Homo sapiens: one gene and its partners. The protein of the gene in region 5 interacts with the protein of the main gene of each other region in a pairwise test. Each region holds a gene or a part of one and is shown on either strand. Other genes may lie near its edges.

Region 1 (3,520 bases), on a different chromosome or scaffold from region 5:
CCAATCTCATCTTTTTTGTTTGTTTAACCAGGGGGTACATGTGCAGGCTTGTTACGTAGATAGATTGCATAATGCTGGGGTTTGAGCATCTATTGAATTCATCACCCAAACAGTGAATGTAGTACCCAATAAGTAGTTTTTCAGCCCCTCTCCCACTCCCTTCCCCCTTTTGGAGTCCCTAGTGTCTACTGTTTCTGTCTTTATGTCCATGCGTACCCATTGTTTAGTTCCCACTTATAAGTGAGAATGCATGTGGCATTTGATTTTCTGTTTCTGCATTAATTCACTGAGGATAATGGTCCCCAGCTCTATCCATGTTGCTGCAAAAGACATAATTTCACTTTTTTATGGCTGCATAGTATTCTATGATGTATATGTACCACATTTTCTCTATCCAATCCACCACTGATAAGCACCTAGGGTTAGTTCCATGACTTTGCTATTGTGAATAGTGCTGCAATAAACATTTGAGTGCAGATGTATTTTTGGTAGAACAATTTTCCCTTGTCCCATCCCAAATTTTAAAAGTGCTCTTAAAAGAATTTTATAGACAACACTCCTAGAACAGCAGAGAACGGACCATCAAAAATTTCTTCCTCCACAATAGCAACAAAAACAGTGGTAAAAATTGTCCAAATCAACTTTTTCAGTACTCTAGGAATTAACAAAGACTTGCAACATTCCAAGGAGCATTTATTCAAGAAAAACAGCCGAATATCAGTAAAAACAGTAAGCTTTGAGGTGTTTTTTACCTTGCCCTATTCCCATCCCCCTCACTCAAGCTTTTAGAAGACTTAAAAACCATGTGCACAAATGTGGTTGTTGTGAAAACATCAGCCTAGCCACCACTGTGGACAGCAGAGGAACAACAGGTTTGGAGCTCCCTAAAAGTCCCATACTGAGAAAAATTGTCAGGAAGCCCCTTGGAAAGCTCCATGCCCCAGCTTTGTCTTTCTTTGACCTCACTCAAAGCTTGCTCTTTGAGAACAGCCCTATCCCAAGGGCATTTGTTGAAAACTATCAGCAGTAATTATTTAACATCACAGCTACCAGAGGTAGCAATACCAGTTAGGGCTAACAAAAGTCTAACAACAACAACAAAAAAAAAATTTAAAGAAAAAAATAGGAAATGAGATTTCTATAATGCTCCCAAATATTCCTTGGAACCTAAAAGGCCATGTTCATGGGCAGGGCTCTACAAATGCCCAGGAAAGATCTAAAAAGGTCCTAATCTCTCACTTCTGACTGACTTTGAGGTTCTTCTCAGGCAGAAAATAAAAGCTAAGGCAGAGTTGTAAACTGCCTGCAGTAGTATTAAACACATACCCCAACAAACACACAGAGACTCTCAGAAAAAGCTAAGAGACTTATTAGTTCAAGGAATTTAATAAACTCTCTCCACTCATTAGCTGTCCACTAAGTTGACTGAGCAGAGACTTCAGTAGCTGCATACAAAGAATACAGATTTTGCAGAATTATCCCAGAAACATAATTAAACAAACAGCAACGACAAAAATAAATAAATATGCAGTAAAAACAAGAAACCCAGGTAGGGGAAAGAATCTGAGTTTCTAGAATAGACACATTATTTTAAATGTCCAGTTTTCAGCAAAACGTATAAGACACACAAAGAAACAGGAAAGTATGGCTCATGCGCAGGAAAAAAACAACGAATAGAAATTATTCCTGAGGAGGCCCAGATGTTAAACTTATTAGACAAAGACTTTACATCAGGAATTATAAATATATTCAAAGAACTTAAAAATCAGTAACATAGCGGTCCTCTAAAATTAAAGGATAAATTAAGACAAAACTGAGAAAAGTCATCTCTAGCAGACCTATCCTACAAGAAATACTACAGACAACTCTCAAGACTAAGCTGAAAGGAAACTAGACAGTAACTTAAATCCACACAAAGAAATAATAAGCACCAGTAAAAATGTAACTGCATAGTAAATATAAAAAACAGTATAAACGTGGTTTTTCTTTGTAGCCCTTTTCCTCCACTAGATTAAAATTTAACTGCAGGCTGGGAGTGATAGCTCATGCCTGTAATCCCTCAGCACTTTGGGAGGCTAAGATGGGTGGATCACTTGAGGCCAGGAGTTCGAGACCAGCCTGGCCAACATGGCAAAACCCCATTACTACTAAAAATATAAACAATTAGCCGGGTGTGGTGGCGGGTGCCTGTAATCCTAGCTACTTGGGAGACTGAGGCAGGAGAATCACTTGAACCTGGGAGACAGAGGTTGCGGTGAGCTGAGATCTCACCACTGCACTCCAGTCTGAGCAACAGAGAGAGACCCTGTCTCAAAAAGAAAAAAGAAAAAAAAATTAACTGCATACAGCAATAATTGTAAAGCTGTATTGATGATGGCACACAATGTAGAAAGATGTCATTCGTATAGCAATAATGGCACAAAAATATGGGAGAAAACAGAGCCACATAAGAGCAAAGTTTTACACAGTATTAAAATTAAGTTGCTATTAATCAAAATTAGATTGTGAAAAATTAAGATAATTGTAATCCCCAAGGGAATTTTTAAAAAAGAACTCAAAAACATATAACAAAAAAGGGAATTAAAATGATGCACTAGAAAATAGAAAAAGAAACAACAGTATCTATCAACAGACAAATGGATAAACAAAATGGTGTATCAATACAATAGAATATTATGTAGCTATAATAAGTAATGAAGTCCTGATACATGCTACAACATGGAAGATCCTTGAAAACATCAGGCTGAATGTAAGAAGCCAGACACAAAAGGCCATATATTATTCCATTTATATGGTGTGTGCAGAAGCCATTGATAGAAAATTCATGGTGGCTAAGGGGAGGTAGAAAGAGGAATGCCTGCTAATAGGTATGAGGTTTCTTTTTAAAGTGATGAAACTATTCTAAAATTGAATGGCTGTGATGGCCACACAACTCCGAATATATTAAAAACCACCGAATTTTATACTTTAGATGGATGGATTTCCTTTTTTTGTGAATTATATCTCAACAAATCTATTTTTTAAGTTATACAATAAGTAACCAACAAAAATAATCACATACATATATGTAGATTCTATCAACTACACGTCAATACTAAAAATTTCATTAGGGCCCTACTGTTATTCAGTGGGTCTTAATCTCTATAAGCCTCTCTGGTAGTAGAATAAAATACTAGAATGGGCAAAAGGGAATGTTCTTCTGTCTTAAAAGCCAGGGACCTTTCCCCCTGACAGAATATGATCCATTAAAGGACCTTTGTCATTAATTTCCTGACAACTGGTTTACCTGCTTCAGGCCAACAATGGATTTTTCAACAAGAAATGTAGTCTAAGGAGAAAGCCATCTTTCCTCATCTGCAACTGTGACACCATGACCTTCTGCCTTCCCCTCCAACACTAGAATAACTTTCAGTCTCAAAGTCCTTAAAAAATAAATAAATAAAAGTTTCTCCCTTCAACATTCTGCAGAACATCACATTCACTACTGGCATTCCCCACTCCTACTCCAACCTCACCCTCC
Region 2 (3,520 bases), on a different chromosome or scaffold from region 5:
AGGTCGAGATTGCAGTGAGCTGTGATTGTGCCACTGTGCTCCAACCTGGGTGACAGAGTGAGACTCTGTGTCAAAAAAAGCATATGCTTATAATAGGACATATACCAAGTCTGTTCTAAAATGCTTTACATATATTAATTCATTTAACCTTCCCAACAACTCTGGGAAGTAGGTGCTATTCTTTCTATTTTACAGTTAAAGAAACCGAAGTCACACAGCTAATAAAGGTAGAGCTGAGATTCAAACCGAGCTGCTACAGTACTCTCAACCATGCCACTAACCACCTTTCTGATTTACTGAATGATAACAGCAGTGACTCTGAATTCAGTACATCTTGCATTATAATTTTGACTTTTTCTCTTTTTTGTATACTCCTTCCACTGCAGACCCAGTTTTCAAAATATGCTACCTACAGTAAAAATCTAATGTAACGTATTTAGCTCATTTTTTCCCCCCACCAAGCTTCTGTTTTAAAGTAGTTTTTATTATCCTTTACAGAATTAAACTGAATATTCTCCTCAAATAAGTTCATCAGTGGCTTTGGGGGCTGTATGGGTGAGTTATTAGGCATTATACCCTTAAATATTTTAGCATAAAAGGATTGAAAAAAGTACCTATTAATGCACTACTCTAGCTTTTTTTTCCCTATTTTTTTCTGGTCTTTATAGCTCGGTTTCAAACTATTACAATCATGAAGTGACATTAATATTTTTTTTCTTTGCATGATTTTTGTGTTTGTCTTTTTTTGTTGTTGTTTTTGAGAGAGGGTCTCACTCTGTCACCCAGGTTGTAGTGCAATGGCACAATCTCAGCTCACTGCAACCTCCACCTCCCAAGCTCAAGTGATCCTCCCACCTCAGCCTCCCAAGTAGCTGGGACTACAGGCATGTGCCACCATGCCCAGCAGTTTTTTGTATTTCTTTGTAGAGATGGGGTTTTGCCATGTTGCCCAGGCTGGTATCCAACTCCTGAGCTCAAGCAACCTGCCCACCTCGGCCTCCCAAAGTGCTGGGATGACTAGCATGAGCCACAGTGCCAGCCTGTGTTTGTCTTCTAATACTAAAATTACAGTGTACATCAAATAGGAAAAGGTTAGGGATAGTTCAGCACTTCTTTTTTATTTGTTGAATAGTTGTTCTTTATTAACATTGTCCCTGACTTGCCTTTTCATCCAGAATTTTCCTCTGCTAGATATATTTTCATTCAAAATACCAAAGAGTAACCAACGTACCTAAATTTTTGTTCTTTTCCGTCAACACTTTAGGAAGCAGGTAACATAAATCGATCATTGAGCTGCCTGGGCCAAGTGATTACAGCACTTGTCGACGTGGGTAATGGAAAACAGAGACATGTTTGCTACAGAGACTCCAAACTTACCTTCTTACTACGGGTAAAGTAGATCCTTGGGTTCCTGGGCTCCTTTTGGTTATGCTAAAGTTGATAGTGGGACAGTCTCTCAGCCTTGGTGGCAAGAGTATACATTTTCTTTGCTTAAAAAGGTCTTGTGATTTCTCACCGAAAATATGTTCATTCCTATCATTAAACAGGATTCCCTTGGAGGTAATGCCAAAACAGCCATAATTGCAAATGTTCATCCTGGATCCAGGTGTTTTGGGGAAACCCTATCAACACTTAACTTTGCTCAAAGAGCCAAGCTGATTAAAAACAAGGTAAAATACTGGCGTATACTTCATTAAATAAATGAGAAAAATACTAAAGCTTACAGTATGCCATTTTTGTGATTGCCCTAATATTAACATTAACTTTTATTTATTTCTCATTGTATGCAAAATTTCTATTTTATCTTTCCTACCCTTCTATATCACACATGTAATTAGAGACCTAGGTTAGATCTTATGGTTGTTATTGCTTGACTAGTTTTTTCTTTTTTTTTGAGACACAGTCTTGCTGTGTCACCCAGGCTGGAGTGCAGTGGTGCAAACACAGCTCACTCTAGCCTCAACTTCCTGGGCTCAAGCGATCCTCCTGCCTCAGCCTCCTGTGTAGCTGGAACTACAGGCATGCAGCACCATGCCAGGCTAATTTTTTTATTTTTTTAATTTTTATTTTATTTATTTTTTATTTATTTATTTTTTTGAGACAGAGTCTTGCTCTGTCACCCAGGCTAGAGTGCAGTGGTGCGATCTCTGCTCAGCTGGGACTACAGGCGCCCACCACCACGCCCGGCTAATTTTTTGTATTTTTTAGTAGAGACGGGATTTCACCGTGTTAGCCAGGATGATCTCGATCTCCTGACCTCGTGATCCGTCTGCCTTGGCCTTAATTTTTTTATTTTTTGTACAGGTAGGATCTCACTTTGTTGCCCAGGCTCGTCTCAAACTCCTAGGTTCAAGCAGTCCTCCTGCCTCATCCTTTCAAAGTGCTGGGATTACAGGTGTGAACCACTGTACCCAGCTGACAAATTTTTTCTTAAGGGAAAGCAAATTAAGTATGTGAGTCTTTCTTCCTGCCAACAGCCAATCAATCAGTTCTGCAGCAGACATCAGCTGAGTGTCTTCTGATTCAGTTCCATCCTGACACTTTATGTCTGGAGATAGGGTGAGATCTCACAGGTTCAGGGCTCAGTCCTACAAGACTGCGCCCAACTTCTGATGCCAATTGCAAGCCCCAGCTTGTCCTATCTGTGCTTTCAGACCAACTGGCTGTAAATCAGGAGGTCCATGTTGCCCCTTTCCCTGGGTAAATCAGAAGACTATAGATCTAGTCATTTATTTTATTTCCTTGGACTATGGAGTACTAGTAAGATGAGGAGGAAAAATCATTAGAGCTTCCTGACCCTAAGTCTCTTAAGATTTACTAGAAGTCTTTGGAGATATAGAACTGCAGCAATAATTAGAATTATGAAGTCACTGATGGGACAGTGATGTCAGAAGTGCAGTAGTACCTTGTAATGAGGCTGGCCATAAGAATCAGAAGCAACTGGAAATGGCTGCTTAACACACAAAAGAACAAAACCAAGAGCCTTCTACTAGTCACTCTCAATGGTAAGCCCTTTGCAGCCTATCAGTGGAAAGTGCCAGAGTATCTGGGACTTGTTTAAGGATGTGCTATTTAAATTTTTCCGTGAGCAAATTGGGCTTACAGCGAGAATACAGAAGACCTTGGGGCTGTCACAGGGTGTTTTTTCCTTGCTGGAGTACTGAGTATTTCACAACTGAGTCCTCTGACCTGGTTGGTACTCAGCTGTTGGCACTCGTTATCACCCTTTAGGCTTTGTGGACCTTTTTAAAGCTTTATTTTTTTAATTAATCAACTTTTTTTTTTTTTTTGAGATAGAGTCTCGCTCTGTCAACAGGCTGGAGTGCAGTGGCGCACATGTGTGACCTGCCCCACTCTTGACATCCTGCCCCACAGTGGCACATTTTGTTTGTGAGTCCTTTAGCCTTTTAGAAGTTGTCCTAAATAAGACATTTCTTTAAGAAAATGAAGATAATCATTTAGTGTGGTAAAAAATTAAAAAAAAAAAAAAAAAGGAAGTGTCAAACCAACCCCTCCTTCC
Region 3 (3,520 bases), on a different chromosome or scaffold from region 5:
ACGTTGGCCAGGCTGGTCTCAAACTCCTGACCTCAGGTGATCCACCTGCCTCAGCCTCCCAAAGTGCTGGGATTGCAGGCATGAAGGCAATTCTTATTCTATACATTTGTCCCAAATGCAAACTAGGAAAAGAACAAACCAAAAGCAATTGCTTTTCCTGTTTCCAGATGACACTGTGTCTAGCCTTTCCCTTCATTTCTTGTGTCACTGGCTTGTATGACATGATCTAATATTTCTCCCCTTTGTTCCTGTAACCCATTAGCACTTGCTGTCTGGCAGGGGATGTGTGGAGGGTTGAAAAGGGCATATTCCTGGAATTCAGAACAGGAGTAGTGAAGGTCACATGCTTAGTGTCCTCTCAGTACTGACGCTCTGGAAAGATGCAGCTAACAGCTGCCACATGGATTAGCCCTAAAGGTCAGGTAGGAAAGAGGCACAGAGTTGTTTGGAGATAGAAGAGAGAACAGTTTCCTATAACTCTCATTCTGTTTGCTTGGCAGCTTTGAGGGTTTTGAGATGGGTGCTTGGGGCAGCCCTGTTGGCTGTGTGTCCCGGAGTATGCTGGCACTTGGAGAATCAAGAACTATGTGGCTGCAGGTGATGCAGTGAGATCTTTTTACTTCCCTGAATACATCCTGGGAAGAGCTGCACCCACAGCCAGAACGGCAACTACTAAACTTGTGTTACATGCTCTGCAGATGGCATCTGCAAAGTCAGCAGAGACGCAGTAGAGAAAAAAGGAGAAGTGAAGATTCAGGGGTAGTTCAAGGAGTAAAATAAAACCTAAAATGTGTGCCTGGGTTGAAGGTCCGGGCTGGGAGAAACAAGAGGAGAAAGAAAAAAAGAGGAAGTATTGCATAAAGCAACAGACCCATTTGATACATATGCAGAAGGACTAAGAAAGACTGATTGAATGCTTTGATCACATGAGTCAGGGCAAGCTGCTGGTGATGGGGTGAAGAGGAATGCATGAAGCTGCCTCCCTTAGGGTGCAAGCTCAGGATGCCCAGTCAGCTTTAGCCCAGAATGCTCACCAGCCTGACTTCTTATTCAGAGACTTGTCATGGCATTTCACAAATACCGCAGGTGCCTTTCCTTTCTGCAAATGAGACACTTTCTCCCTAGAACAGAAGATCACCCTGTGGAAGAAAATGGATGTGAATATGCCATGTAGAACAATCAAAAGCACTGTTCACAAAGGTACAGTTCTGTCAGGACTGTTTAAATAATACATGATCATGCTGGGTAATTGTTTTGATATTCCCAATAATTAACTGTCACACTCAGGCCACATCAGAATCAGAGGGTAATTTGAGAGCCTAACCTGGTGTTCAGCAACCAAGCTAGTTAATTTAGATAGACAGGCATGCAGACAGCCTAGAGCAGTCTTATGTTACTGGGCTTTCACCAAGAGATGATAAAAGATCAACTCTGCCATCTCTTAGCATCTGCATTAAGGAATTAGGGCATCTGCCTTCAGCTAGACATTGCTAGTGTAAAAAAGATTCTTTATAACATTTCCATCCCCAAGATCTTTTTCTTTTTTTTTTTGTTTGTTTGTTTGCTTCTTTGGTGATACAAGCAAATGACTAAAGAGAAATAATTTGTCAATCCTAACTTAGAGTTTTTTTAAATTAACAATAACAGCACACTATAGTTTGCAAAATCCCAGCACATTTAGTATAAAAGCTTTAAATCCTATAGCGATCTCTGTGTAATTCATTTTATGGGTACACATGGGTGGGGCTGCGGAGACAGGTTGAGATTATCTTGGAATCTCACCCTTCTTGAAGAGGTTGGTTTGAATCTTTGATTATCCAGGTAGCATCTCGGAGGTTTGTTCCCTAACTATTTTGTACTTACAAGAAACAGTGCCAAATGAGAAGCTGAGATTCCTGACTTCTAATCCCAGCTCTCACTGAATAACTGTGAGCGATTCAGGGCTTATGTTTTCCTTACATGAAATACAAAAATACTGTCACTTCCCCCCCCCTGCCCCCCAAAAATAAGAAAATAAAAGAAGACTCCTAAAGAAAATCTACATCATACAGTAATAAATACAAGGTTTCCTAAAGCTCTCCCTGAATTGTGAAGGCCCCTGAAATACAGCCCCTAGGTCCTGACATCAGGTGGGGGTCTAAAGTGAAGGAAGAAAAATACATTTAATTACTTTTTCTGAGTCTCTCCTGCTTTTACTCTGATCTTCTGAATGGCGAAGCCGGGACTGCTCCACCAGTCTGACCAGCTAAAGTATGAATCACTCTTCCATTTGAGCTTCAACATGAGTAGTTCTCCAATATCTACCTCTGTGTAAATTAGGAAGGAGTAGGTCTTATTTGTGGAAACTTCAGGCCTAAACAAAAAAGCAATAAATTTGGTTAGTTATAGAGATCAGCTCTCCCTGCCCCCCACTTTTTTTTCTCCTCTCCAAATATAAATAGCTTTATTATTTAGGGGATATTTTAAAAATGCACAAAAATGTCCAACAAAGAACTCAAAATGAAGGTCGATGGCATTTAGTATATTTTAAATTATATCCACATTCCAGCATTTATCCTAATGACATGAACTATTTAATACAATTCTAAAAGAAAATCCTGAAGTCAATCATTCAGAAATATAATTTTCATTTTCATGTATTCCTTTTCAATTTGTGTTGATACTTGAACATTATTTAGCTACAATCATAGCACACATACGATTCTCTATTCTTTATTCTCTTCAGATTTTATATTCCATTTTTTACTATGTTTTCCTGGGTTTCCTACAATTATAGTTTTTAAAGGCTAGATTGATTTTAATGACTTGATAAACCACGATTCATTTACCCACTGCCTCAATGTTGGATACTGGGTTTCTAATTTATGCTAGTATAGGTACGACTGTAATTGATGTTTTTAAAAATGTTTGTTGACTATTTCTTTAGGATAAATATTAGAAAAAAATCACTCCCTTCTATGTAATAATATTTTGTAGCTATGGAAAGTTATTAAAATACTACCTTCCGCACCTGGAGGGTTCTAGCCGTGAATGATGCATGGTAGGTTCGCATGTTCTGCTTCACCACCTTGTCTGCACTGGCTATTTTTAAAGATTTGTTCATCTAGTAATTGTAAAAGTATCAAGTTGCCTTACTTTTATTTCTTTGATTAGTAGTAAAGGGTAGGCTGGGCATGGTGGCTCACACCTGTAATCCCAGCACTTTGGGAGGCCGAGGCGGGTGGATCACCTGAGATCAGGAATTCAAGACCAGCTTGGCCAACATGGTGAGACCCTGTCGCTACTAAAAATACAAAAATTAGCTGGGCATGGTGGTGGGCACCTGCAGCCCCAGCTACTCGGGAGGCTGAGACAGAAGAATTGTTTGAACTCGGGAGGTAGAGGTTGCAGTGAGCTGAGATCGAATCACTGCACTCCAGCCTGGGCAATAGAGAGAGACTCCATCTCAAAAAAAAAAAAAAAAAAAAAAAAAAAAAGAGCTAACACTTTGTCATGGACTTCTTACTACTTATATTTTCTG
Region 4 (3,520 bases), on a different chromosome or scaffold from region 5:
GTGAGCAGGACTATATGTCGGAAGGCAGGGGGTCAAGATTACTTTCTTTTTTTGGAACGCATCTCGCTCTGTAGCCCAGGCTGGAGTGCAGTGGTGTGATCTCAGCTCACTGCAACCTCCGTCTGCTGGGTTCAAGCAACTCTTCTGCCTCAGCCTCCCAAGTAGCTGGGACTACAGGTGTGCACCACCATGACTGGCTGATTTTTTTGTATTTTTAGTAAAGATGGGGTTTCACCATGTTGGCCATGCTGGTCTTGATCTCCTGATCTCAGGTGATCTACCTGCCTTCGTCTCCCAAAGTGCTGGGATTACAGGCGTGAGCGACCACGCCTGGCCAAGATTACTTTTGTTTTTTTTTTGAGACAGTCTCACTCTTTTTGCCCAGGGTGGAGTGCAATGGCACGATCTTGGCTCACCGCAACCTCCGCCTCCCGGGTTCAAGTGATTCTCCTGCCTCAGCCTCCCGAGTAGCTGGGATTACAGGCACGCACCACCATGCCTGGCTAATTTTGTATTTTTTAGTAGAGACGGGGTTTCCCCATGTTGGCCAGGCTGGTCTCGGACTCCCGACCTCAGGTGATCTGCCCGCCTTGGCCTCCCAAAGTGCTGGGATTACAGGTGTGAGCCACCGTGCCCAGTCGATTACTTTCTTAATCACAGGGGAAAAGAAAAAAAGTTTAATTACTTCTCTGTTGATTTGCAATCAAAAGAAATAAAAGTATTTTGTTTCTTTCCTTTTTTTTTTTTTTGTTTTTAAGAGACAGGGTCTTACTACGTTACCCAGTCTGGCTCAAACTCCTGGGCTCAAGAGATCCTCCCACCTCACCTCAGAAAGTGCTGGGACTACAGGTTTGAGCCACCCAGCCTGGCCAAAAGTATTTTCTAACACTATAGTTATGATACAATGTTCTATTTGATCGGGAAAGGTAAAATTAAATGTATAAAGTTCTTGGAGAAACGTCAAGAACTAAGAAAAGCACTTCTTTCAGTGAGTCTAAAGTATTAAATGCTGTAGTTTATCAGGGCACTTCCTTCTAGTGTTTTTCAGTGCCCTGGAAAGTGAACTTTAAAAAAAAAAAAAAAACAGATACAACTACTTCACAAGATTTGTCACTAAAAATGCTTTGAGTCTGCAGAACTGCCACCTACTGAAGCTGTATCATGATCATAAGCATTCTGAACACATTAACAAGTCCTAAAGGGATGTGACATCAAGAAGAACAGACAAACCTTCTGCCTTGCACAACCAGAAGTTATCAACTTTCAGAAGATCATTCTAATCCTTAAACAACCTGCCCTACACAGCCTCCAATGATGACTATACAGTAGGTAACTGCTTTAAAAAGTGATGAGTCAGGTTACAGTTATAGAAAAGAAAAGCTGAGTTAAAATGTTCCACAATTTACAGCCAAAGCACCATGTAAGCATGAAAAATGCCTTAACACAAACTCACCTGATTTATTTGAAGCATGTTAAGACAATATTGACCAAACTGCTGTATCCCTCACGGCTCCAAAAACTGGAAAACGAAAATGAAGAAATAAAGTTCAACTTAGCTGATAACCTCAATGACTGGTATTTTAAACACATGCCCTTGATCAAAATCAAATATAAAATGTAATTTATCCAGATCTCCATAGAACTTTCTATGATGATAAAAATGTTCTGTACTTGCACTGTCCAATCTGGAAGTCATTAGCCACATGTGGCTACTGAGCACTTGAAATGTGGCTAGAGCAATCAAGAAAATAATATTTAATTTTCTTTCATGTTCACTTGAATAACTACGTCACTAGTAGCCACCATACTGGACAGTACAGATCTGAACAAAGCTCCTTCTGCTTCTAGACTTCTAAGACAATCCCAACAAAAGTGAAGCTGTTAAAAATAAATCTGAGAGTTTCAGGTTAATATTTAATGTATACTTCCCTTTTTGCAGTCCTGTTTTAAACAGCTTTGTTCCCATCTTCTATACGATAAATTAATCCTAAAGAAGATGCAACACCACAAGTATTCTCTTAGATGGTATGGAAAAGAGCATATAGTACAATTATCTTGCTGAATAGTTTCTTTTTCTCTGTCATTTTGTCTGTTATCATCAGTATAAAAATAGTATGTATATTAAAATTTCAGGCTGGGCGTGGTAATCCCAGCATTTTGGGAGGCCAAGGTGGGTGGATCATTTGAGTTCAGGAGTTCGGGACCAGCCTGGCCAACATGGTGAAAACCCTGCCTCTACCAAAAATACAAAAATTAGCCAGGCATGGTGGCGCGTGCCTGTAATCTCAGCTACTCAGGAGGCTGAGGCAGGAGAATTGCTTGAACCCAGGAGGCAGAGGTTGCAGTGAGCCGAGATTGCGCCATTGCACTCCAGCCTAGGCGACAGAGCGAGACTCCATCTCAAAAAAAAAAAAAAAAAAAATTTTAATTTGAAAACAGATGCCAATGAAGGGCAGGAAAGTCCAAATTACAAATAAATAAATCATGGGATCTTGTAATGAAAAAAAGTTTATATAAAATATAAATTATATACAGACCTCTCCCCTAAAAATTATCTAAAGCAACAACACAATTGTGATACACAGCAAAAGGCCTATATCTAATCACCTGTATAGAAACTGTTATGCTGCTAAATTTTAATATTGAACTTTCCCCTGGAAGCAAACGTTTTGTAAGTACACACATACATACACAAACACACACCCATATTTGGCTACCATTTTTTCAAGATGACAAACTAGAGTCCATTCAAAATGACTTTGAAAACTTTAATATTTTTCTTACAATAGTGTCCTCAGCATCTGCATCAATTTTTATTTATTTTCTAATTACTGTCACATTTCCTATGAGAACGGGATGCTGTATAAAGAGCACACGGCCTGGATATTGGTGAATTTGAGTTTTAGTCAAAGTTCTTCAGATTACCTTCTGAGCCTTGGTTCAAATTACTTTGTGTATCTTTGAGTTCTTCTTTTTCTGTCTTCTTTTTTTTCTTCAATCTTTAAAAAGTAAGCTAAAGTCCTTGTGGTAGGCAGCCTCTAACAAATAGAATATAGCAGAAATAATGAGATACCACTTCCAAGATTAGGTTATAAAAATTCTTAGGTGTCACCTTCTCTCACTCATTTGCTCAGAGGGAGGCAGATGCCAAACTGTGGTGCCCTTTGGAGAGGCCCATATGGCAAAGAACTGAGAAAAGCCTCTGGCCAACAGCCAGCAACAATTGATTTCTTCAGTCCAAGAGCCCCAGGAAACTGAACCCTGCAAGAGCCACATGAATGAGTTCAGAAACAGATCTTCCACCAGTAGAGCTTCCAGATGTGACTGCAACCCCAACTGACAGCTTGACTACCACCTCTTTTATGAGCCACAGGCACCCAGCTAAGCTGCACCCAGATTTCTAACCCACAGAAACTGTAAGATAATGTTTGTTGTCTTAAGTCCTTAAATTCTGGTGCAATGTGCTATGCAACAATAAATAAGACTATCCTGTCCAACTCTATAATTCAATATTCCCATG
Region 5 (3,520 bases):
TGTTGGTCAGCCTGGTCTCGAACTCCTAACCTCAGGTGATCCACCTGCCTCGGCCTCCCATAGTGGTGTGATTACAGGCGTGAGCCACCGTGCTTGGCCTCATTACACAGATATTTGAGTACTTACTAACAAGTTGCCCTCATAGTCATGAATATAAGAAAATGAAATAAGAAGATTGTATTTTACTAATAGAAAGTAGATGGAGTAAATGTTTCACCAGATCCCTTAATCTATAGTAGGAAAGTACATTTTCAAATATTAAACAATCAAATAGCAATATAACTAGAATGGTTAGGAATACAGTTTAGTTATTTACTTAGTGACTTAGTGGTTATAAAAAACCACTAGGAAAACTATGTATAGTCATCTGTGTATCCAGAAGCTTGTCAGAGAAAAAGAGGAATATTTTGGTTATCCTAATCATCTATTCACTTGAAATTTATTTTATAAAATTAAACTCTCCTTAAATAAGTTGTAGCAATATGAGTAATTTCTCCAATTTATTTAGTTGCGTTTTAATTGACATTATTAAGTATCTTTATCAAATTTGTCAGAGTAATTTTCTGTTTTTCATGAGTCTTCTGTTTTTAATGATTTTGAATTAAAAGAAGTTCATTTGGCTGGGCGCAGTGGCTCACACCTGTAATCCCAACAATTTGGGAGGCCAAGGTGGGCAGACTGCTTGAGCCCAGGAGTTTGAGATGAGCCTGGGCAATATGGTGAAACCCCGGCTCTACAAAAAATGCAAAAATCAGCCAGGTGTGGTGGTGTATGCCTGCAGCCCCAGCTACTTGGGAGGCTGATGTGGGAAGATCGCTTGAGCTTGGAGGGGGTTGAGTCTGCAGTGAGCTAAGAACACGCCACTATACTCCAGCCTGGGCAACACAGCGAGACTCTGTCTCAAAAAAAAAAAAAAAAGTTCATTGAATTACCGTGTAATCACATTTAGTACCTCATCATTAGATGTAGAAATATATGAGATTATACTGAAGTTATAGATTGTAGGGCATATCTATTTGTCTTTTTTAGAACAAACAGCTTGTTTAAAAACTTTTTACGCTAAGATGGAGGTCCAAAATTCTCTTTAAAGGCTGCATTTAATCAAGATTGTAAAAATCTCATAAATTGATTATTAATGGTAAAACAGAATACTAGAAATACACTCAATAATAAACTATGCGGTACATAATTTGTTAATTCAACATGTTAATTTCAGGATCCTATAGTGCTTCAGCATCAATATTATAAAGAAACTCTATTATTACATATTTCAGAATAACAGGTTTATTTGAACATTTTGTTGTTTAGACCTTTGCTGATGGGGGCTTATTTGTTTTCTTTTGTGTTGCTATTTAACCATCTTTATACCATAGGCCATAATTCATTTTACCTTCATTTTAAATAAAATTTTACACTACTTCAAGACAAAGACCCAAACACACTCACAAACATATTTTTACTTAAAGATTTCTTTTAAAGGATTTATAAAAATCAAACCAAAAGGGAAGAAAATTTGGTTCTTTGCTAGCACAGAAAAACTGTTTTTCTCTGATAGAATATTTTAACAAGAGCCAGACTTCAACAAGATGTCTAGGTATTAAAAGTGACAACTCGGCAGTAAAGAAAAGTGCAACTTCCTTTCAGGGTGCACAGGGCCAACATGAGGTTGAGGGGAGGAAGATGCTTTGGCTTAAGTGAGAAGCAAGGAGGAGACAGTTCTGTTCTCTGTTTGACATGTTTGAAGTCTCATCACGACAGCATAAAGAAAATCACAAATGTAATGTTTGTAATGTTCTGACAACTATATAGTCTTCAATTTAACCAAATGATTTTCTACTTTCTTTATATATAAGTATAATAGTATAGTATGTTTCCTGCTGAATTATTAATTATTAATATAAAGAATCCTGCTGCTTTTGTATCATTTCAAATATGGTATTCAAGTTTAAAAAAATTAGATGGCTGGTTAAATTTTGTTTTTTTATACAAGCTGTATGGTAAAGGTAGGAGTTCCATAAAAAAAACACTGCTAAATACCTGTCCAAAAGAAGGGAATTTTTATATACTTAACATTAAAAAAACAAAACCAAGAATAATATGTATTGTAACATGTGATTTTAAAGCATAGCTTATTCTACCCCACTCTATCCTCACTTCTCCTCTCCCAACTTAGTCTTTTATCCAGTTAGGTTGTTTAAAATGTTGCCATCACAAATAACTATGTATTATATAACCCATTTTTTCCCCAAATCTATTAAAGCTATGTTGATTCGATTTTTCCTCTACTGTACCTTCTTCCTCTCCCTTAACTCAGGTACTCTAAATCCCTTGCTTGGACGACTACAGTGCTCCTCTAATTCTTCTTACTCTAAACCTCTATTTGAACCTACACAAAGTCAGCTAAATGCAAATCTGATTGTGTTTCTCTTTGTTGTTCTCCAAAAGCTCCCTATCACCTTCATGAAAAATTCCAAAGTTCTTGGACCTATATATAAACCATTCTATAATATAGTTTGTTTTTTCAACTTTATTTCTTAACATTTCCCTGTATGAATCCTATGTCCAGACGCACTAAGATAATTATAAACAGAACAACCCGTGATGTATCATACCATTATCTCTTGGCACATGCTTGGCTAACTCTACTCATCCTTTCAGGGCCATCTCAAGCAGTTCGTTCTACCTTGAAGCCTTTTCTAACCTCCACTAGATGACTTGATGACACCTTCATGAGTACATGATAAGTGTCTTCTCTACATTTCTGTAACTCTCACGCCTGGCATGGTTCTTAGAATATAGTAATGATTTAATAAAAACCTCCTGAATTATTCCCTTGGAGAAAATTCTCTGGGGTAGATATGAGGACAAAAGGCATATGCATTTTTATATCTTTTAGTGCATTATAGAAAACTTGGCTCCTAAGGGGGTTATACAAAAGTATATGCCATTAGAAATGTATTATGTACCTAAGTTTCAAAATCTCATGAGCATGGGGCAGTACCTTTTAGAAACACAAGGTACAAAACTATGTTTTATTATGTATGTATTAGCAAAATACAATTTATTTATTTATTTATAGACAGGGTCTCACTCTGTTGCCTAGGCTGGAGTGCAGTGGCATAATCTCGGCTCACTGCAACCTCCACCTCGCAGTCTCAAGCAATCTTCCTGCCTCAGCCTCTTAAGTAGATGGTACTACAAGCATGCACCACAACACACAGCTAATTTTTGTATTTTTTGTAGAGATATGGTTTCACCACGTTGCCCAGGCTGGTTTCGAACTCCTGGACTCAAGCAATCTGCCTACCTCGGCCTCCCAAAGTGCTAGGATTACAGATGTGAGCCACTGGGCCCAGCTGAATGGGTTCACTTCACTTTCTATAGTAAAAGTAAGATCCCATCAGTGAGCCTGGGGGGAAAAAAAGACAGGTGGGTGGGAGTGTGTGTGTTTGTGCTGTTTGTTGGAACAGACCTGTCAGGGCATCCAAGTCTTATCAAGTGGTAAGACAGTCTATCGAGT

What was found.
Region 1: the proteins of CEP126 (region 5) and RAB27A interact in a two-hybrid assay, tested with the Homo sapiens proteins (one large-scale study listed by BioGRID and IntAct).
Region 2: the proteins of CEP126 (region 5) and KIF15 interact in a two-hybrid assay, tested with the Homo sapiens proteins (one large-scale study listed by BioGRID and IntAct).
Region 3: the proteins of CEP126 (region 5) and LPL interact in a two-hybrid assay, tested with the Homo sapiens proteins (one large-scale study listed by BioGRID and IntAct).
Region 4: the proteins of CEP126 (region 5) and STAU2 interact in a two-hybrid assay, tested with the Homo sapiens proteins (one large-scale study listed by BioGRID and IntAct).

What each region holds. Positions count from the first base shown.
Region 1 is NC_000015.10:55,230,813-55,234,332, forward strand, and holds part of RAB27A (ras-related protein Rab-27A), read right to left. Parts: intron 1-3,520. UniProt on the Homo sapiens protein: Small GTPase which cycles between active GTP-bound and inactive GDP-bound states. In its active state, binds to a variety of effector proteins to regulate homeostasis of late endocytic pathway, including endosomal positioning, maturation and secretion.
Region 2 is NC_000003.12:44,796,287-44,799,806, forward strand, and holds part of KIF15 (kinesin-like protein KIF15), read left to right. Parts: intron 1-1,264; coding exon 1,265-1,390; intron 1,391-1,547; coding exon 1,548-1,670; intron 1,671-2,908; exon of another isoform or gene 2,909-3,002; coding exon of another isoform or gene 3,003-3,005; intron 3,006-3,520. UniProt on the Homo sapiens protein: Plus-end directed kinesin-like motor enzyme involved in mitotic spindle assembly.
Region 3 is NC_000008.11:19,959,734-19,963,253, reverse strand, and holds part of LPL (lipoprotein lipase precursor), read right to left. Parts: intron 2,354-3,520; coding exon 2,171-2,353; intron 1,140-2,170; coding exon 1,035-1,139; intron 1-1,034. UniProt on the Homo sapiens protein: Key enzyme in triglyceride metabolism.
Region 4 is NC_000008.11:73,736,831-73,740,350, forward strand, and holds part of STAU2 (double-stranded RNA-binding protein Staufen homolog 2), read right to left. Parts: intron 3,039-3,520; 5' UTR 2,926-3,038; intron 1,520-2,925; 5' UTR 1,472-1,519; coding exon of another isoform or gene 1,454-1,471; intron 1-1,453. UniProt on the Homo sapiens protein: RNA-binding protein required for the microtubule-dependent transport of neuronal RNA from the cell body to the dendrite.
Region 5 is NC_000011.10:101,918,004-101,921,523, reverse strand, and holds part of CEP126 (centrosomal protein of 126 kDa), read right to left. Parts: intron 1-3,520. UniProt on the Homo sapiens protein: Participates in cytokinesis. Necessary for microtubules and mitotic spindle organization. Involved in primary cilium formation.